4 separate regions of the Homo sapiens genome follow, and regions 1, 2 and 3 are each linked to region 4. Evidence: fine-mapped expression QTL. A gene starts in region 4. Each other region holds a variant in brackets. All regions are shown on one strand. Distances are between the middles of the regions.

Region 1 (5,143 bases), 20 kb before region 4:
GGTGTGTGCAAACTCTTTGTATTTAAGGTTGTGTTTTTGCTGGACACCAAAGAAGCTGTATTCTGGGTGAGATTTAATGAGCCTAAAAACTGGCCCCAGTAGTTTACAGCCTGCAAGTAAAACAGTGAAAAGGGTAGCTTATCAAGTGGTTATTGTCTGCTGAGTGGACTTGACTACAGAACTCAAGTAAACCATAAGATTTGACTTGAAATGTTTCTATCCAGAGGGAGTGCTTTCTGATAGTTGTTTACTGGCCTCTTACCAGAAACTGCTCCCTCAGAGATACTGTCTCCTTAAAATGAGTCATCCTGGATCTCCACCAGCCTGCACCAAAATGGTGTGATAGTGCCCCGTTACGCTCCCCCAACGCGCACATGCCTGCCGGTGGTGAGAGTGAGTGCTCTTGGACTGACTGCCTGTTCTCCCAAATTAGTTGTTATATAGCATTCAGTTTTGAGTCACTTCCTTGGCTGTTACTTCAAATTATTCTTCTGTTTTATAGGTTAGCTCCCAGCGATGCCAGATGGGATCAGCACAGCCCTGCCTCTGCTGCTAATTGTTCCTCTAAAGTAATCGCCATGCGTTCTTTGGGCTTCATCTTTAAAGGAATGAAGCAACTGAGATTATTCTGGAAAACCTTTTGGCAGTTAGTGAAATTAGAGTACAACTAAGAACATTTTCAGACCTCCACTGTGGATGACCTGGGTATAATCTCACAAATCGATGGGACTGCAAGGATTGTAAACTGAAATGAACATGATTATACTCTGTTGGAAGAGCCTAAGAGGAAACTGATGCCATGAGTTTCAGAGAGTAATGCTTAACCCCAGTTACACAGGATGCCGTCTTGTGTTTCCTCTTGTTTAGTTACCCACTACAGTGATTTTGTGATCTGCTAATGGGTTGCCACCCACAACCATTGCTTTAGCACTTTTACTTCAAATCAATGAAGGATTGATAAAAGTTCTCCTGGTGTCTCCGCAGAGTGCCTTCCAGGAACAGATCTTTGCATAGAATATCAGTGGTTTCCTTTTTTGTTTCAAATAGTGGTCAGAAAATACCCAGTGTTGACTCACCAAGGCAATCAGCTTCCTTTTTCCCTTTTTTTGTTTTTTTTTTAACATTTTATATTTTTGCTTTATTTTATTTTATTTTATTTTATTTTATTTTATTTTATTTTATTTTTTGAGACGGAGTTCCACTCTGTCGCCAGGCTGGAGTGAAGTGGTACAATCTTGGCTCACTGCAACCTCCACCTCCCGGGTTCAAGCAATTCTCCTGGCTCAGCCTCCTGAGTGCTGGGACTACAGGCGCGTACCTTCTTTAGTAGAGACTGGGTTTCACCATGTTGGCCAGGATGGTCTCTATCTCCTGACCTTGTGATCTGCCTGCCTCAGCTTCCCAAAGTGCTGAGATGACAGGTGTGAGCCATCAGACCCAGCATTTTTTTTTTTAATTTAAATTTAAATTTTTTTTCATTTTTTTGAGAGGTTTTTTTTGTTTTGTTTTGTTGTTGTTGTTGTTGTTGTTTTTGAGACAGTCTTGCTCTGTCACCCAGGCTGGGAGTGCAGTGGCATGATCTCTGCAACCTCTACCTCCCAGGTTCAAGCAATTCTTGTGCCTCAGCCTCCCAAGTAACTGGGACTACAGGTGCACGCTACCACACCTGGCTGATTTTTTTTGTTTTAGTAGAGACAGGGTTTCAACCATGTTGCCCAGGTTGGTCTCAAACTCCTGAGCTCAGGCAATCCACCCGCCTTGGCCTCCCAAAGTGCTAGGATTACAGGTGTGAGCCACCACACCCAGCTATTTTTTCTTTCGTTTTTTAATTTTAAAGTTGGGGGGGGGTCTCAATTTGTTACCCTGGCTGGTCTCGAACTCCCGGACTTAAGCGATCCTCTGGCTCCAAGCCCACTACCAGTCTCAGGTTTCTTTACTAAAAGATCACTACCTTTTTTTCTCTTATCTGCTGCCATGTGAGATGTGGCTTTCACCTTCCGCCATGATTGTGAGGCCTTCCCAGCCATGTAGAACTGTAAGTCCAATAAACCTCTTTTGTAAATTAAAAAAAAAAAATCACTATTTAAGATACTAGGATGGATTGTGACTGTTGAGGAGTACTTACATATCCTACATTTGACTACATTATTTCCAAACCAAGTATTCCATCCAAAGGAACATACTGCTATCATAGAGACCAAGGAGGGACTGTTTAAGGTTGCCAAGGTGAAGCGAGCTGAGAGGCTTTGTCCTCGTGCCAGTAACTCTGAAATCTCTCTTAATTCCTGCTGTCCAGGCAGCAGAATGCCATGGTTTCCCCAAGTAGGTAGCTGCTTTAGCAGTTAAAGCCCAAATGTCTGTTCTGTTGATCAGAGGTCTCTGAATTTCTGAAGTGGTGTTTCGTTTCTGGTGACTGAGTTAATCCTTTACAATCCCTCTTGTAAAGTGTGCTAATAGAAAGAATCCACCTTTCAAAGCTGCAGAACCAGACCGTGCCCTAAATTGACCAACGTAACTGATGTGCCTCAGGAAGTCTCTTGCCAGCTGTCCCTGTGAAGACCCCCCTCCTCCCCCCCAGCTGCTGCCTTGCACACTGAAGCATCTCAGACTGTGCAAAGCCGTGTAGTCATCAAGACAGTAAATCCCAGGGCTTGGTTAAGTGCTGTGTGATAACTTGTTTGGATGAGACTTAACTTAAAACCACTTACAATAAACTTGGGAAACTACCGTCAGCTGAGTTCAAATTTACTGACGCCATGATATGAGGATGAAGGTTTATTACCTGGTGACATCATCCTGTTGGTGACAAGGTGGTGATACATCTCTAATGGGACT[TCCCTCAGTGG/T]CAGGCAGGCTGCCAAGCAACTAACCCCCATCAAGTGCCAGACCCTCCCAGTGTTCTGAGAGTCATCTCCATGCTAAACAGCCTGCGTTTTATATGATTTCTCTACCCAGCCAAAAAAAAAAAAATGGTCCATCATGTACGCAGTTATCTAGTCTTAAGTTATATTCTGGCTTTTTTCTCCCACTTTATTATGGAGCAGAAGTAAGCCTATCATGTTCTTAGAAAGGCTCTTAAGAGGTGTCCTGGAGTCCTTGAATCACTTTAGCATCTGGGGTAGGATGTGCCACCAGGAGGATTTGGGCTGGAGCGTGTGTGTTTGCCTTTGACCTGGACTGCTGTCTGATCTTGCTGAACACTCCACCGACATTTCCTAAAGTTGCTCAGTGCCAATCCAGCAAAGCAGTCCATTTTCCCTTGGCCAAGATTGAGATGTATTGTTTTAGATACAGAAGAGTTCTTGGATGAGCCAAGGACAAGCTGGGGTGTCCTATATTGAACAGACCTCGATGAAAATCTTGAATTCACCCCAGTGCCCTCTGTTGGCAAGGGAAGGTGAAGATTGAAAAGTTAAAAAAGCTTTTGGCCACTTGAGAGGATCAGGGCCGCAACTCTTGAAGAAGCAAAGGGCTCAGTGCATTGGGGTCAGCGCTGGTACAGCTGAAGGATGCCGGCCTTGTGCAGGTCCCTCCACAGGGCAGCTTCCAGGGACAGATCGTGGTTTGCATAAAATATCAATGGCTTCATTTTTCGTTCGAAATAGTGGTCGGAAAATTTCCAGTAGTTGCTTGTGATGAATCCATAGGCACTGACCTGGGCAAGGATAGTCGCTGGATTAGTATTTGTTGAGCGTCTAGTGTGTACAGACACTTGGGTGAAGTGACATGAGTTTAGAAAGGTGTCCGTCTGCTGAGGTGAGGATAATGGTCTAGGGCTTATTCCCACTTAGCAAGTGGGGAGATGGATTCAGGGGTGACTCACTGTGTCCCCACTTGGCATAGCTGGTGATTGCCAGAGCTGGATTTGGAACTCAAGGGTGGAGGCAAAAGCCCATTACTACTCTCTCCATCCTAACTGGGGACTGCAGTCAAGACACTCCTGCATCAGAATAGGAAAAGGCCCTGTGTGGTGGCTCACGCCTGTAATCCCAACACTGGGAAGCTGAGGTGGGAGGATCACTTGAGCTTGGAAGTTTGAGACCAGCCTGGGCAACATGGTAAGACCCTGTCTCTACAAAAAGTAAAAAAAAAAAAAAAGAGCTGGGCGTGGCAGTACATGCCTGTGATCCCAGCTACCCAGCTACTTGGGAAGCTGAGGCAGGAGGATCATCACACCACTGCACTTAAGCCTGGGTGACAGAGTTGAGACCCTGTCTCAAAAAAGAGGGAAAAGATTTAGGTGTGAGTCGTGGAGAGGCATTTGGCCCCCAGCTCTCCATACCAGCTTTAGCATGGGTCACGGCCTCTCCTTGAAAGCTGCTGCTTGGCCCCTGCCTCCATGAGCTTCACGTGGGTCATATCCCATCAGGAATGACTCTTAACGGTGATTTCAAAGTAGTTGCATGTGGGAGGCTAAACCTGCTGCCCTACCCCAGCTCTAGGATGTCCCCATAAAAGAATGTCCCTATTTGGCCCAGTATGTTGAGGACTTTGGCTTTCACAAGGGCAGTTTGATGATTTGAGCCTTAAATACCATACTGAGTGGCTGCCTTGGAGAAGAGTGAAAGAAGGAAGCCTGGGGCAGGTGTCAGGAGCCAAGGCAAGCCTGAGGCAGGTGTCCGGAGCCAAGGCAAGGCTGGCCCAGGACCTGTCCTTCAAAGGCCCCAGGGTTGTGGGCAAGGAAGTGAGCAGTACCAGCAGCACTCTTGGAACTGGGGATTCCACGAACAGAGGCCAAGAGTCCCAGCTCCGAGGTAAGGGATATCAGGGGATCCTGTTGGGTTCTGTTATCCTGTGTTCTGCCGGCATGGGCTTCTGGAAGAGAAGGCCTCTTACCTGGTCACAGGTATGCAAAGCTGTCAGCAGCATGAGAGCCCCGGTACTAGGCATATATAGGTCTCCAAAATGTGTGTTAATCAACTTTGATTTCAAGAACCTGGAAGCAAAAAGAGACATTTCAGCTCACTAGCTTGATGGCTATCATCACACTTCACAACTACACATTCAAATAGGTGGGAAAACTTCAAAAACTGAGGGCCTTCTACTCCAGTCAGTTCTTTATTCGGTCCAAGTGGACTAAATACAAAGATCTTTGAGACCTTAGGTAAGGTTGGGGGAGGGGGTGGTGAGAAAGGAACCACAG
Region 2 (5,143 bases), 41 kb before region 4:
CGGGACCTGTGCTTTAGTTTTCTCCAGAGGTTTCCTACCTATTAAGTCACTCGGGAGGCTCAGTAACCCCAGAGGATTGGCAGGACATGTGTTTTTAATCTTTGGTTAATGGTTGTGGAAACTGAGGGACAGGGAGATTTAGGTGGCTTGCTCCAGATCATCTATCTCATTTGTGGCTAATGCGGGATGCTCAGGCCCGATTCCAGGCAGGGTCTCTTCTACATGAAATGGGCCTGGACCTCCTGGCAGGAGAGAAAAGGCCAAATCTGAGGACCATCTGGCCAGGCCTGGCCTGGCGTGACTTAGCCAGAAGGAAGCAGTTGCCTATTAACTCCTTGGGACCCAGTTAACTGGAAAAATTGGTCTGACATCGAGGAACCACCTGCCGATGGTGGCTGCCGTGGAAGGCTGGCAGTGGGGGTGACATTTCTACTCTCCAGTCACACTGTCCTAAATGCCAACTGATTCCTTAGGTGGTCCTGCCCCTCAATATTGGGGTGAATTGATAGGGATGGGAGGAGGAGGAAGAGGAGAGTCAGAAACATGGGAAGGTCGTGCCCTTCAATCCTGACCCCAGTGCTTTCCTCTGTTTAGGGAGAAAGAACCTCTGAAGTAAGCCCTCACCTCTGCAGGTGGGGCTCAGGCCCAGAGACTGGGATCAGCTGGCTCAGGCAGGTAGGGCAGGGCTGGGAGCCGGGGAGGGCAGAGGGCAAGGCTTGGGACAGGCAGGAAGCAACAGGCAAGTCCCGGCCATGTGGGAGGATAGCAGGCAGTGTTCAGCTCTTGCCACTGATGGAGGTTCAAAGTAGGCGGATGGACTCATGCCTTTGGCTGCTACCTTGAGCCTGTTGTGGTCCGGGCCATGGGGCAAGGATGAGTTTGAAGAGAACCAGGTGTAGTTTGACCACATTTTCTAGGCTTGGGGATGGCGAGGTGGTCGTGCTGGGGCATGAGGGCAGTGTCGGAGGACGCCCAAGGGAGAGGCGGTGCTCGGAAACATCCACTCTGAAATGCGAGTCCCATCCCCAGGTGTGGGAGAAGTGCTGATCTGCTCTGGTTTTCTGTTTCAGCTCAGGTCCTGGTTCGTCCCCTAGCCCAGGAGGATGCTGTGGGAGCTGCAGCAGCGGCAAGAGGGAGAATGGGGGGAAGCAGCACTAGAGAAGGTAGACGCCTCCCTCTCAGCCCGGGACCTGCCAGTCTCCCCTTCCCCCAGGCCCTGGGTGTGGGCTCCTGAGCAGGACCTGGCTGGGCCTGGCAGAAAGAGCAGACGTGCTCGCTGCTCTCGGACGGGCTTCCTTCCCTCTGAGTTCCTGAGGCTCCTCTGAGGGACTGCTGAGCCTGAGAAAGCCTAGGATGAGGGACTTGCTGGGTCCACCAGGCTAATTCTGGGGCAGCCAGCAGCCCAGGCAAGAGGCAGGAATAAGTAAGGAGTGAGGAGACCCCAGAAGCAAGGGACGGCTGATAGCTCACATTTACTAAGCAAGGGCTTCCATTCATTCTGTAATTTAATCTTCAGTCACCCACAGAGCCTGGTAATGTTATTATCCACAATTTCTAAATGGGGAAACACAGAGACAGGTTAAATAATTTGCCCAACATCACCTAGCTAGGAAGTGGAGGCTCCCAGGCTCACACTGGAGCTGCAGAGCCCACGCTCCTACCCACCATGGCAGGCGGCCTCCCCCTGGAACCTAACAGTTTGCAGGGGTTGGGGGTGGTTTGCTGGCCTGGCCAACTGCCTGTCAGCCCAGGAGCTATTCTGTTAAGCCGCCACTTGTGGTCCGAGGTGCTGGTGTCGGTTTGCCACAGTGGCACTCGCTTTTGTGTCATTTGCCTTTCCCCAGTTCCCAGAGCTCATCCTGTCACTGGCTGCTCTGCTGAAATTATCAATAAGAAATGCCAGTTGGATCTGTGACATGTCTGCCTGCAGCTGGATGGGAGCAACGGACAGCTTGTCCTCCGAATGTGTTTTCTGTATGTGTGCAAGCGCGTGTGTTCCAAACGGGCAGTAGCGTGTGGGAAGGAAAAAGCCTGACACTTGTTTTTATCAATTTGCTGATGCTCAGTCCCGGCGGCTGCCTCCTTTGCCCCCAGCTGCTCTGCCATTTCTCTCTTTTCAATCCTGCATGATCCTGAGCAGAGATAAAAGCAGATTTCCGCTTCTGCTCCCAGATCCAGGAGCAGACCCTGCAGGCAGCTGCTCCTGATGTCTCACAGCTATTAGTCTTCAAAAACCCCCCGTGCCTCTGTGCACACGCGTCTCTCCTCCCCAGCCAGCCCCCCTCCCAGCCCAGCGGCGATGTCTCTGCCTGGCTGGCCCGTGCCCTTGACTTCCAGGCAGTAGAAGATGGAGTTCTCTAGACAGCAGCACTTCAGCCGCCACTCTGCCTCTGAAGGGAAGGAAGGGAAAGGGTGAGGGATGCCGCAGAGCAGAGGGAACCGCTGGGGAGGCGCTCAGGGTGGGGGAGGAGGTGCACCCCGCTGGGGAGGGCCTGCTGGTACCTCGGGGAGCCTGGCTGGGGTGTGTGCGAAGGCAGTTCTGTGGGAGCCTCTCAAAGTAGGGCAGGCAGGAGGCAGGGGGAAAGTCACACTAGGGAAGGAGCCTGCAGAGGCAAAGCCAGAGCGCCAGCCTGACCCAGGCCGTGAGCCCGTGATCGCCTGTCTCAGCTCCTGTCAGCCTGTCTCTCTCTTTGGAGGCATCGGCCTTCCTGGTGACAGGCCTGTCAGGCTGAGGGCCAGAGGGCACTGTTCCCGGGACCCAGTCTGTGTTCCCCGATCCTATCTGCATTTATTCTCTATTTGCCATGTTCCTGTCACCTCATCCTTGCTGCCATTTCCGAGTTGCTCATCTCCTTCCACTGGTCTGAGGAATTGTCAGGCCAAGGTCATGGAGCTGGCTCACGGCCCAGACGCACTTCCCCAGGGCAGCGCCCCTCCACGCCACTGTTCCGAGAACCTGCGCAGGAGGTGGTGGCTGCTCCAGGGATCCATCCAGAGGAAGGGCGGGAAAAAGAGAGGAAGGGGCTGCTGGCGGCCAGCGGGGCTGTGGCTGCCTGGGCTTGGAGGTTGCCTGGGCAGCTGGGGTGCC[A/G]TGTGGGCCGGGTGGGGGGGCTGTCTCCCCCAGGGAGCAGGCTGGCTTTGGTGGGAGCAGATTGTGTTTACACCTTCCCCGCACACCCAGCCCACGCTCGCCTCTTATTCCCGGGGCCTCTCCCACCCCTGGGCTCTCTGCGCAGTCTGCACATTTGCAGCTCCTGCTGCAGAAAGTTACCTCTCTCAGCCTAGAGCTCCCCACAGAAGGCTCCTGGGACCCGGGTGCCCCTTCCTTGGCCCACTGGCTCCCATCACAGGGCTTAGTGTGAAGCTCAGGGCAAGGGTGGACCTTTAAATGGGGGAATTAAATCCTGACTATGACACTGTCCCCACTGAGGCTGAGTCCTTTTTCATCCCTTTCCTTGCAAAGAGCCGCTGCTTGGGAATGGGAGCAGGAGTGCTCAGGGGCTTGGGAGAGGGCAGATAAAGGGCAGCTAGAGAGGGAGAGCTGAGCCAAAGGGTGGGGTCCCTTCTGGTCTAGGGTGCTGGCTACTGTGAAATAACAAGAGTCCAAGAGCAAGGTGTCCAGAGTCAGAGCTCCTGGGTTTGAACCTTGTTCCACCAGCACATCCTACCTCTGTGGCCTGGGTAAGTTTCTGAACACCTCTGTGCCTCAGTTTCTTTAGCTGTAGGATGGAGATCCTACTGGTATCTGTCTCTTAGAGTTGTAAGGGTTGATTAGATAACGTGTGGAAGATGCTTAGCATGTTGGGTAAGTGTCCCATATATGTGAGCTGGCACAATCCGGTTTGAACTGTAAATTACTGAACAGTGGTAGATTCAGGACGGCTAGAGTTCCTCACATCCTCACTCTCTGGTCCTTCCTGCCGTCTCTCCACATACACAGAGCTGGGCGACCGGTAGTTCTGCAACAGATCAGAGGATGGCAGAGGGTGGCATTGCTGGGGTGGGGAAGCCCCCTGTAAGCCTGTACTGGAGAAGACCACCACTGCCTCTCTGTGCCCAGAACCATGTCCCAACCTCCAGTGGTGACCTCGACCTGGACAGCGCCACTCCCAGCTGGCTCTGCTTCCGGAATGAACCTCAGCTCCTTGACAAGACGGGAGGCGCTGCCCTGCTGTGGTACCTTCCTCCGTGTGAATGCTAATATCTCTGCTGGGGGAGCCTGAGTGACGGGGAAAGGCTGCTTGGAGCTGCAGGGCGGCTGAGGGCAGCAACCAGGAGCAGGGAGGTGCTGCTCCTGCAACTGAGGCTCAGAGCGGCTGCCAGTCTCTCCTGGAGACTGGAGCATGACCAGGGAACTAATGAGGCGGTGGGGGTGTGGTGGGAGCCAGGGAAGTAGCCACTGCAGCTGTGGCTGTCCACTGTCACCCTGGGGTGTAGATGTCACCTTGGGGAGTACCCACCCATTCCAAGTGTGCGGTTGTGTGTGTGTGTGGTTTGTGTGTGTGTGTGTGTGTGTGCGCGCAGTCCTGGGCAAGGGCAAACAGTACAGGTGGTGGGCCAAGACTAGATGGGTAGGGCACAGTGCCCACTATGAGACAGGCACAATGGCGAGAGAGCAAACCCTGCTGGTTCCTCAGGCTCCCGTAGCCTCTCTGTGGGGGGCCTCACTGTTAGGAAGAAGCCCAAGACCTAGAGCTAGAGGAAGATAATGCTTCTTTGTGAACCTCAGAAGAACAGTTTGGTTCGCACGGAAGCTTATGTTAACATAATGATGATACTAATCGTATGATTAATAACCACTAACATGCATTGGGCGCTTACTATGTGCTAGGCACTGTGCCAGCTGCTGTATTTTACGCACTGTTTCATTTATGCGGCAGGAACTGTTATCATTTATCCAATAAGGAAAGTGAGGTTCACAGAACTTGCTCAAGGTCACTCATAGCTGGCAGTGAAGCCAGGACCTGAGCCTGGGAAATCTGACACCAAAGCTTGGGATAGAGGGGGCCCAAGTCTCGAGTTGGGGGCCGTGAGGAAATTTTGATTGTGACCTGTCTACAAGGCACAAGGAATGGAGCTGTGGTCCCGCCCAGCCTGCCTTTGCAAGTGGGCTGGTGTTGGCCAGGGTCATTGCCACCAATCTGTC
Region 3 (5,143 bases), 87 kb before region 4:
CCTCACCTCGACACACTCAGAGCGCTTCTGGAGGCCCAGTTCTGCCTCCGGCTGCATGGAGCCCCTCAGCAGGGAGGGAAAATGCCAGGCAGACACTTCTGAGCTTGTAAACGGTCATTAAGGAACTAATAAACCTGATTTCCCAGAACGTTGCCCTGGGGCTCCCTGCTTCCCAGGGAAGAGGCTGGCCCTAGCCCCAGTGACTGCCAGGGTTTCAGGACACGGGGACACCAGGTTGCTTGTCCCAAGCAGGCCTGCAAAGCCACGTGCTTATGGCCCACACCTTGCTTCGGGGCAGCGTGGAGCTCTCTTGCTGAGGAATGAGGAGGAATAAGGGGCCAGAGATGGGACTCAAACCTGCCTGGGCCACCTACCTGCTGGGAGACTTTGGGCAAGTGGGTGCTGCAGAGCCTGCCTCCTCTGCTGTGAGATGGGTTGATGCCCCACCACGGAGGGAGCCAGGGAAGATGACAGCAGATATGAATGTACAGTGCCTGGCACACACCCAACGCCCAGTTGGAAGTTTCTTTTATTCCTGGCTGAGCTCTGCCACCATCGCTCACTTAGTCTCTATCTGAGCCACGAGCCCCACAGGGGACAGATCTCTATTCGACAGGTGGGGAAACTGAGGCTCAGAGAGATGAAGTCACCTGTCCAAGGTCCCACAGTTAGGGAGGTGGTGGGGCTACAACCCCAGCCAGGGTCCCGCGCTCTTAACCTCCACACTCTGCAGCCTCTTGCCACCCTGGAACTGGTGAGGGGCAGGAGAAAAAGAACGGGTGAGGACTCTGAGTGTTTGGGGTGCTGGAGTGAGTCCTGCATGCAAAGGCCTTTGATTCATGAAGAAGGGACAGCACCTAACTGCCTGGGCAGCACTGCTCAGCTTGCAAAGGACTTTTACAGACATGATCTCATTTAGTTGAGGCTAAGGGTGAGAGGCGGCTGTCATCATCCTCACGGGCTGGCAAGGTCAAAAGGGGCTTAGGCCAGGGTTCAAAGTCCTGTTCCCACTCCAAACCCCACAGCAGATCCTCAACCCTCCTCTTCCAGATCTCTTTTTTTTTTCTTTTATTTTTTGAGACGGAGTCTCGCTCTGCTGCCCAGGCTGGAGTGCAGTAGGGTGATCTCGGCTCACTGTAAGCTCTGCCTTCTGGGTTCAAGCGATTCTCCTGCCTCAGCCTCCTGAGTAGCTGGGACTACAGGTGCATGCCACCACACCTGGCTAATTTTTTTGTATTTTTAGTAGAGACGGGGTTTCACCGTATTAGCCAGGATGGTCCCGATCTCCTGACCTTGTGACTGCCTGCTTCAGCCTCCCAAAGTGCTGGGATTACAGGCGTGAGCCACCGCGCCTGGCCCCAGATCTTCTTATGACTAAATGGAGCTGACAACCTGGGGAGACCCACTGGGAGAGGGAAAAGGGTTTCTTGCCAGAGACCGGGGCAGGAAGCCATCCCTGCACCACCTGCTGGCACAGGGTTGGCGGCCACACGGGGGAGGCAGAGGAGAAAACCAAGACTTGAGGCAGCTTTACCCTGCTCCCAGCCCCAGGAACCTACGCCAGGGAAAGCACAGCTGAGGGGCACCAACTCCATGAGCTGCCCCCCACCCCACTGTCAGTGACACACACACACTGGCAGGCCAGGAAAACCCCTGGGCAGAGGTCAGCAGTTCATGCCCAGATGGAAACCCACCCTCACTTCCCTTGGCCAGCAAGGCACTGAGGTCCCCCTACCCCAGACACAGCCACTCCTACAGAATAACAATAACAACAGTGCCACTGCTCCATATGCGTGTTCCCATCTAGTCCTTGACAGCCCACGAGGCAGGGCCTCGGCCATCTCCCAAGTCTGTGCCATGGACCGGCAGCCACGCCCCTACCTGAAGCCACCCTAACACCATTATCACGATGGCTCCCCGCACTGCTCCTGCCATGGCCGGGCACTGCACTGCAGGCTGCACACCTTTACCACGGGAGTCCTCACCTCACACAACCCTCCAGGTAGATTACTGTTAGTGAGCCCACTGTGCAGCTGGGGAAACTGAGGCACAGACTAATTAAGTGAACTCATCCTACTGAGCACACACATGGACGACTGTGCCCAGCAGCCCCTGGACCTTGGCCCAGCTCCTGAAGTTTGGAATCCTCCTCCATCCTTTTCTGCTGGTCACAAGGTTCCCCTCACACTCCAAACAGTGTCTCTGGCCCACCTCCTGCACTGCCCACTTGGCTGAAACCACTTTCCTGCAGGAGCCGGGCACTGGGGCTGGAACTGCCTTCCAGTAGCTTTTGGACCACAAACAACTCCCAGCTGGGCGCCCGGATACATTTGCTGAAGGAGGGGCCGTGGACACGGTGGCGCTTTGTACTTCCCGGAAGATGTGTTTTTCCTTACACCCATCCTAGGTCTCCTGGGAGGCAAAACGACGTTCCGGGCAGGCTTGGTTTCCCTGTGAAGCCGCCCGTGCCCTGAGAGCTGTCCCTGCCTAGCCACCACCACCGCCGAGGTCAGCCTGTACTTGGGCAGGCGCAGACGTCCCCGCCACTCCTCCCCCAGCCTGGCTCAGCTGGATAGGAAACTGGGAGCCGCTTCCGACAGCCAGCGCTTCCACAGCCGGTGCAGATGCCTGAGCTCACTCTGGAAATCCCCTGGGGCAGATGGGGCAGCGCCGAGGCCTGCTCCAGAGTGCGAGGCACAGAGATCTGAGGAGAGTGTGGAGGGGGAGAGGCAGCCAGGAGGGCACACGTCTTCCCTGTGCTGTGCCAGCGGCAGGCGGGGGCCAGGCCCAAAGGGAAGCACCAGCCAGCTGAGCCATGCCACTCGCACACTCACGGGCAGGCGTGCACAGCT[CCTT/C]GACTTCTGCTGTCATCTGTCACCTTGTCTGGGGCAGAGTTTACACAGCAAGGACAGAAACCTTGGTGGAGAGGCCACCACAGTATCCAGAGCTGAGGCCACAGGAAAAACAGCACCACTGACCCCAGAGCAGGACTCGGGCCCCAAGTGCGTCACCCAAAGCATTTGTAGTGTGATTTATTCCTCCTCTTATAGGAACAAAAGTCCCCCTCCTGGGCTGGAGAGAAAGAGAGTGTGTGTGTGTGTGTGTGTGTGTGTGTGTGTGTGAGTCTGTGTGTGTCTGTGTGTTTGTGTGTGTCTCTGTGTGTCTGTTTGTGTGTGTCTGTGTGTGTGTGTGGTTACACCAGGTACAGACAGGTAGGAGTCACTGAGGGTTTGTTCGTGGGGCTCTTGGGTGGGGCCTGAGGGTGGGCAACTGGGTTCACACCCGAGCTCCACTGCCGACTTCCTGAACAACTTTGTACAAGCCTGGGTGCTCAGCCCTGTCCCTTGAGAGGCTCACAGCAATGGAGGCCACTTTTGTTTTTTGTGCAAATGAAAAGGTGGGAGTTTCACTTCAGCCTTTTACAGTCAAGAGACCAAAAAAACAAAAACAAAAACAAAACAAAACAAAAAAAACAAAAGCCACCAACACCAACAAAAAGAACCCAAGCTCGAAACCTCCACCAGGGTTCCCAGGCAAGAAGGCTGGGTCCAGAAGTGAACAGGATGGGTATAATGGCTACTGCAAGAAAACAGGGAGGGAGGGCAGCGAGGTGGCCCCAGCTCCTGGGCATGGACGTGGCTGCTTCATCCGATCCTCTCCCACCGTGCCAGCCACCCCTCCTTGTTGCCAGAAAACTGGAAGTACATTCCTCCAGCCCAATACAAACAACTCTGAGTCATCCCTACTGGGGGGCCACCTGGCCTGTGCTTTGATGTCTCCCATCTCTCACCTCTGCTCAGCTAACACCATGGGCAGGGGTGCCTCCACCCCATCAGCAGCTGGGCCCACTCCAGGGCTCGTCAGCTAACCCAGGGTGCCCTCTTTATTGCAGGACAAAAGCAGCCTGGGGACCCCCCAGGAATTAGGAGCCCTGATACTCCTTGGATGTCACTTTCAAAAGGTGTACATAATTGGAGGAGTTAGGTGTGAGTTCAGAAGGGAAAATTCCAGCAGGTCACATGGTATCAGGCAACCATGCCAGCTTCAGCAATCCAGCTTTGGGAAAATCTATGGGAAGAGAGCTCGCCCTCTGCCCACCCTCCCAGCCCAGGGATATTTGAGCTCAAGGGCTGCCTCAGCCCAGCCTTCCTGGGAGATTGCCCTGGGGTTAAGCACCCCAGGCCTGGGCTGCAAGGGGGTCCTCTGTTCCCAACCTCTCCCCCACAGCACCTAGACCAGCTTCCTGCAGGGCCAGTGGAGATTGGGAAAGGCGGTGTCTCATGGCACCAAAGGAAGACTCTTGTGAGGGGAATAAGTGCCCTCACACTGCCTTACCCCTCATCTCATTCAGGTTTATTCCAAGTTCCTCCCCTAACCACTCTGGAAAACTGAGGTAGTTTCCCCAGTGAGGGAGCATCATTGAGAAGGAACCTGATGGACCAGCTGCTGCGCAGGGTTTCTCAGCCTCAGCACAGCCCAACACCTTGGGCTGGATAATTCCTCGTTATGTGGGCTGTTCCGTGCCCTGAAGATGTCTGGTAGCGTCCCTGGCCTCTACCCACTACCTGCCAGTAACAACAACACTCACTTCCCCTCCCAAGTGTGTGACACCCAAAATGACTCCAACATTGCCAAATATCCCATGGCAGGCAAAGTCGCCCCTGGTTGAGAACCACAGCTCTAAAACACGCCTCCCTTTCCACTGCCTGCCCTACGGACAGTGAGGGTCGAATAAGGCAGATGCTGGTCTCATTATATTACCAGCAAATGGCACACACTGGGGGCCTGATGCCAGCCGCCCAGGCAACAGCAGCCTCTCCCCAAGTGGGGTCAGCTCCCCACCGCCTTCTGCTCCTCAGACACACCCGCTGCCACCCTCTCAGTAGCTCCAACCCTAGAGCCCCCTCCGTTAATCTTTCATGGAATGGGGCAGGGCCAAAACCTAGGCTTCCTTTGCGCCCTGGCGTGGGAGTGGGGCGGGGTCTGTACCCTAGGGAACTTATCCGTCTCTATCCCAATGCCCTGGGGGAACATCCGAGGGGCCAAACAGGTAAAAGGCAAGCCCAGGGCCAACCTTCCCCAGCCCCTCCATCCAGAAGTCAGGACTCCTGGGTCCAATTTCTGAGCTCCGGTCCAGCCCTGC
Region 4 (5,143 bases):
TCCACCTCCCACAGCAAGGCTGAGTCCTGACCTGCCCCGCATTGGGGTTTAAGCTACAGTGCAAATACAGAGAAACAGCAGGAAAGGGCCAGGTGCTTGAGTCATACTACATTTTGAAAAGAGGAAAGATCTTTTTTTTAAAAAAGCATTGTTGCATTATAATAGAAGTATAGTAAACTTCATACTTAAAGTCTATTAGATACCCTGAAACAATTTTAATTTGTGTTTTTTAAAAAATGTATTACTCGGGGCTGGGCGCGGTGGCTCACGCCTATAATCCCAGCACTTTGGGAGGCCCAGGTGGACGGATCACGAGGTCAGGAGATCGAGACCATCCTGGCTAACACGGTGAAAACCTGTCTGTACTAAAACATACAAAAAATCAGCTGGGCATGGTGGCGGGCACCTGTAGACCCAGCTACTCGGGAGGCTGAGGTAGGAGAATGGCATGAACCCGGGAGACAGAGCTTGCAGTGAGCCGAGATGGGGCCACTGCACTCCAGCCTGGGCGACAGAGGGAGACTCTGTCCCAAAAAAAAAAAGAAGATAATGTATTACTTGGGAGGCTGAGGTGGGAGAATCATTTTAGCTCAGGAGGTGGAGGTTACAGTGAGCCAAGATAGACCCACTGTACTGCAAGCCTGGGTGACAGAGTGAGACTGTCCCCAAAAGATTATTTTTATAAGAAAAGGAATTCATTTCTTACAGTTATGGAGGCTGGGAAGTCCAAGGTCGAGGAACCACATTTGGTGAAGGCCTTTTTTTTTTTTTTTTCTTTTCTGCTCCTTGTGGAGCAGGGCTACCCCATAGGCAGTGGTCCAGGGCAGCCAGAGGGCCTTGGTGTTGGTGGGGCAGGACGTCACATGCAGAGTGGGGCTGAGTTGCTAGATCAGGTCTCTTCCTTTTTGTAAAATTATTTTTAATTGGCACATACTTGCACATATGTATAGGGTACAGTGTGATATTTCTTTTTTTTTTTTTTGAGATGGAGTCTCGCTCTGTCACCAGGCTGGAGTGCAGTGGCGCGATCTTGGCTCACTGCAAGCTCCACCTCCCAGGTTCACGCCATTCTCCTGCCTCAGCCTCCCGAGTAGCTGGGACTACAGGTGCCCGCCACCACGCCCAGCTAATTTTTTGTATTTTTTAGTAGAGACGGGGTTTCACCGTGTTAGCCAGGTGAAAGCCAGGTCAGGAGGATCTCCTGACCTCGTGATCCGCCTGCCTCGGCCTCCCAAAATGCTGAGACTACAGGCGTGAGCCACCGCGCCCGGCCACAGTGTGATATTTCAATACGTGTATGTAATGTGTAATAATCAAACCAGCTAATTAGCATATCCATCACCTCGAACTTTTTTTTTTTTTTCTGGAGACAGGACCTTGCTGTATTGCCCAGGCTGGAGTGCAGTGGCGCGATCACAGCTCACTGCAGCCTCGACCTCCCAGACTCAAGGGATCTTCTTGGTCAGCTCCCGGAATAGATAGATGGAAGCACAGGCATGCACCACCATCCCCGGATAAGTTTTGTATTTTTGGTAGAGACGAGGTTTCGCCATGTTGCCCAGGCTTATATCAAACATGTATTATTTCTTTGCATTGAGATACTTTGTGTTTTAAACATCTTTACATAAAAGTGACAAGGATTCCTTTTCTTTTGAGACAGGGTCTCTCTCTGTCAACCAGGCTGGAATGCAGTAGTGCAATCACAGCTCACAGCCTCGAATTCCTGGCCTCAAGCTATCCTCCCACCTCCGCCTCCCAGAGTGCTGGGACTACAGGCGTTAAGTCACCGTGGCGGGGCAAGCACCCTTTGTTCTAAGAGTGCTGGACTCCTGATCACTGGCAAGCTGTTTCACATTGTTCTGCAACTTTTGGTGTATCCTTTGACAGCATCTGTGGAGACCAGATACTTATTTTGTTTTCATCCCGTTAGCCCCCCAGCAAGGTTGGTAGGGGGTGCGCAGATGGAAAAGCTCCAGGAAGGGAAAGGCTGGGGCTGGAGGCCTCTCCCTGAGGCTGCCGGGCCCTTCCCTCCTCCCAAACCCAGACTTCGCACGGCTTGGTCCGCCTTTCTTAAGCTAAGCGAAATCGTTTTGCGGCTTCTTCAGTCACCGGAACCACCACCTGCTAGAGGCCGGCTCCCAGGTTCTCCTCGTGGGACACCCAGGAAAGTGCCTAGGGAGGAGGAGGGAGTGGAGCGCAGGACGCGGCGCGGGGAGGAGAACGCGGATGGAGCCAGGAGTCACCCCTCTTTCCCTCGGGCGCCCGCCTCTTCGCGGATCGCGCCCGCACTGGGCTTATCCAGACACGGCGAGCGGAAGCCGGGGAGAAGGGAGCGGGCGCGGGGCGGACAGAGACCGCAGCGGGCGGGAAAGGCGACTGGCCGCGGCCCGACGGAGGGTCCCCGCGAAGTTGGAAACCGGAGACTTGGGCCCCTGCCCAAAAAGCAGAATCTGACGTTACCGAGGGAGAGTTCCCGACAAAAAAGGAAGTTTTTATCTGCTTCGGGGACCCAGCCAGATTTCGACAATAGAAAGTGTACTTATCAGGCCGGGGAGGACTTCACCAACAAGGGGCACCGGGGCGGGTCGCCAGTGCACAGGGGCGAGGTCTTCCTTGGACCCAGGCAAAGGCCGCGGGGTCCGGGCAGCGCGAGGTCAAGGCTGGGAGAGGGTTCTGGCGACAAAGGGCCGCGGCCGAGTCCTCGCTGAGAGCTGCCCCAGAGGGGTCCACGCGGAGGTTGGGCTGAGGGCTGCGGGCCGCCGGGGAGCCCTGGGCTGGGGACCCTCCCCGCGCCCTGGTCGCCCCTGCGCCCTCCCGCTCTGCGCTCGGCAGCCCCTACCTGGCTCCGGCCGCTGGCCCCGGGTACCGCTGCACCGCCGAGAAGTACAGGGCAAAGAGGAGCCCCGAGCAGGCAGCCGTGAGCAGGAGCAGCAGCCAGAAGAACGACCCGCGCGGGAGCCCCATACAGCCCCGGCCCGCGAGCGCCCCGTCCGCTGACGTCCCAGGCAGAAGGGAGAGAACCGGGTGGGCCGGGTGGCACTTGCGGAGGCGGCCGTCTTGCCCTGCCCCGCCCTGCCCGCCGGGTGCCTGCGGCGCCTGCCCGCCCGGCAGCTCCCTCTCGGCCCCGGCTGAGTGGCCAGAGGCTGCCGCACCCTCGGGAGCTGGGCGGCGGGTCCCCCGGGGCTGGAGTGTCGTCCCGGCGCCCAGAGCGCGCGCTCCTTTGGCCCTGCCCCCTGCCCGGGGGACTTCGGCAGCGGCCACTCCTGCCACTGCGCTCTCTCCAGAGCCCAGCCCCGGGAGGCCGCCAGTCTCGGGTTGGGCAGGGCGCTTTCCTCGCGCCGTCCGGGGCTAGCTAGGCGCGGGTAGACGCCGCCACCTGCTGCGCTGGCTGCGCTCTGCCCTCTGCGGGCCCGGCACTCGGCCTCTAGACTCTGTGGCGGGTGGGCGGCGGCCGGGAGGAGATGTGCCCGGCTCCCTCCAAAGGACCCTCAGATCTGTCAGTCTGCGGACGCCAGGACAGCTGGGAGGGGGCGGGCAGGGTGGAGGAGCAAAACCCGACAGCTCAGTCTCTGGGCTGGCGGTAGAGGGGGGAAAAGGGGGTGAGGTGGGGAGCTTGCCGTGATGGGTTTCGTGGGGGAGCTAAGGCTGTCAGCGCTTATTTGGTAACCATCCAGGGTGGCCAGTCCCCTCAATCGCATTGAGTTCCTTTCACAGAACGAGGCCAGTCAGAGAGACCACCTGAAATGTTCAGCACAACGGGTTCCCAAACTTATTGGCACCAGGGACTGGTTTCCTGGAAGACAATTTTTCCACGGAGGGGGGTGGGGGTGGGGGGGTTGGGGATGAAACTGTTCCACCTCAGATCATCAGGCATGAGTTAAGATGCTCTCATAAGGAGCCCGCAACCTAGATCCCTGGCATGCGCATTTCACAAAAGGGTTCGCACTCCTTTGAGACTCTAATGCCGAGGCTGATCTGAAGGAGGCGGAGCTCAGGCGGTAATGCTCCTTCCCCCTCCACTCACCTCCTGCTGCGATGCCCTGTTCCTAACAGGTCTCGGACCAGGCTTGGGATTGGGGACCCCTGGTCTAGCAGGCTCCAGCATCAGAAAGGGCTGGGAAGCTCAGCACCCGTGCTCTCTAAGTGGAACACTCCCTGGCAGTGAGTGATGGATGAGATGGGTGTGCTTCAGTGGCCACTGTTCGGCAAGCTGTGACATGCGGCAGGCTGTGACATGCCCCAGACTCCCAACTGTCAGCAGGCTGCAAGGATGAGAGGGACCTAGGCTACCGTGTCACGGGCCTTTGGCTCTAATCTGTTCTTCATGTATCCGAGGAAGTCTGGGTGCAGCAACAGGTACCTGTCTGATTGCAAGGCTTCCCGAAAACCTCCCAGGGCCTGGGCCTGTGGTCAGGAATGGCCATTCAGTCCATCCAGTCTCAGTACTCCTACCAAGTCAGGGTCACTGGAGGTCACTCACATTGGGCCAGTTCTTTCCTTCACCCCAAGACTGCTCAGCAGAGCCAGACTCATCTTGCTACCCCGCAGATGGGCACTACTTGGAATTTATGGTGTCACGACTTTCATTTCAATCTTTATGGGTTTACTTGTCAAAATTCCTGTAGATGTTACTTATCCCCTGATCACTGGCTTCTCACATTTCCTCAGACCTTCTCTCTGTGCCCATAAATATCCCTCCTAGCCCTTGCTCTCAGTAAGTGCCTTACCCTCTACTTCATGGAGAAAAGGAGAATCATTCATTAGTAATTTATTCAACTTCCACTTACAAACCTACAAACTTGGCCCCCACACACAGCCCAGCCTCTCCCTGCCGGGACTCTAGTCTTTTTTTTTTTTTTTTTTTTTGAAACAGCCTGTTACCCAGGCTGGAGTGCAGAGGCGTGATCTCGGCTCACTGCAACTTCCACCTCCCAGGTTCAAGCGATTCTCCTGCCTCAGCCTCCCCAGTAGCTGGGATTACAGGAGTGCACCCCCATGCCCAGCTTTTTTTTTTTGTATTTTTAGTAGGGATGGGGGCTTTACCACGTTGGCCAGGCTGGTCTCAAACTCCTGACCTCAGGTGATCTGCCCACCTTGGCCTCCCAAACTGCTGGGATTACATGTGCGAGCCACTGCGCCAGGC

Evidence for each region. PIP is the estimated chance that this variant, and not a neighbour inherited with it, causes the effect.
Region 1: its variant is fine-mapped to the expression of ST6GALNAC2 in whole blood (TOPMed, PIP above 0.99).
Region 2: its variant is fine-mapped to the expression of ST6GALNAC2 in blood mononuclear cells (TOPMed, PIP above 0.99).
Region 3: its variant is fine-mapped to the expression of ST6GALNAC2 in whole blood (INTERVAL, PIP above 0.99).

The regions. Positions count from the first base shown.
Region 1 is chr17:76,562,617-76,567,759 of GRCh38, forward strand. ST6GALNAC2 (ST6 N-acetylgalactosaminide alpha-2,6-sialyltransferase 2) reads right to left here. Exons shown (of 9, transcript NM_006456.3): 8 at 4,837-4,936; 9 at 2,761-3,655. The coding sequence ends at 3,488. It overlaps SNHG16 (small nucleolar RNA host gene 16), which reads left to right. Exons shown (of 3, transcript NR_038111.1): 3 at 503-2,732. Among named protein-coding and RNA genes, the nearest start is that of SNORD1A, 3.6 kb to the left of the region's middle. RefSeq lists enhancers at 4,142-4,642, 4,643-5,143. The variant TCCCTCAGTGG/T (reference allele first, on the strand shown) is at 2,836.
Region 2 is chr17:76,541,959-76,547,101 of GRCh38, forward strand. It overlaps PRCD (photoreceptor disc component), which reads left to right. Exons shown (of 5, transcript NM_001077620.3): 3 at 595-675; 4 at 1,071-1,163; 5 at 1,845-3,418. The coding sequence ends at 616. It also overlaps a transcript of CYGB not described here. Among named protein-coding and RNA genes, the nearest start is that of PRCD, 4.5 kb to the left of the region's middle. The variant A/G (reference allele first, on the strand shown) is at 3,089.
Region 3 is chr17:76,495,703-76,500,845 of GRCh38, forward strand. All of the region lies in intron 1 of RHBDF2 (rhomboid 5 homolog 2), which reads right to left. Among named protein-coding and RNA genes, the nearest start is that of RHBDF2, 3.1 kb to the right of the region's middle. RefSeq lists an enhancer at 4,979-5,143. The variant CCTT/C (reference allele first, on the strand shown) is at 2,853.
Region 4 is chr17:76,582,845-76,587,987 of GRCh38, forward strand. It overlaps ST6GALNAC2 (ST6 N-acetylgalactosaminide alpha-2,6-sialyltransferase 2), which reads right to left and starts at 3,016. Exons shown (of 9, transcript NM_006456.3): 1 at 2,840-3,016. The coding sequence starts at 2,964. RefSeq lists silencers at 2,773-3,112, 3,163-3,452 and enhancers at 3,321-4,002, 4,003-4,683.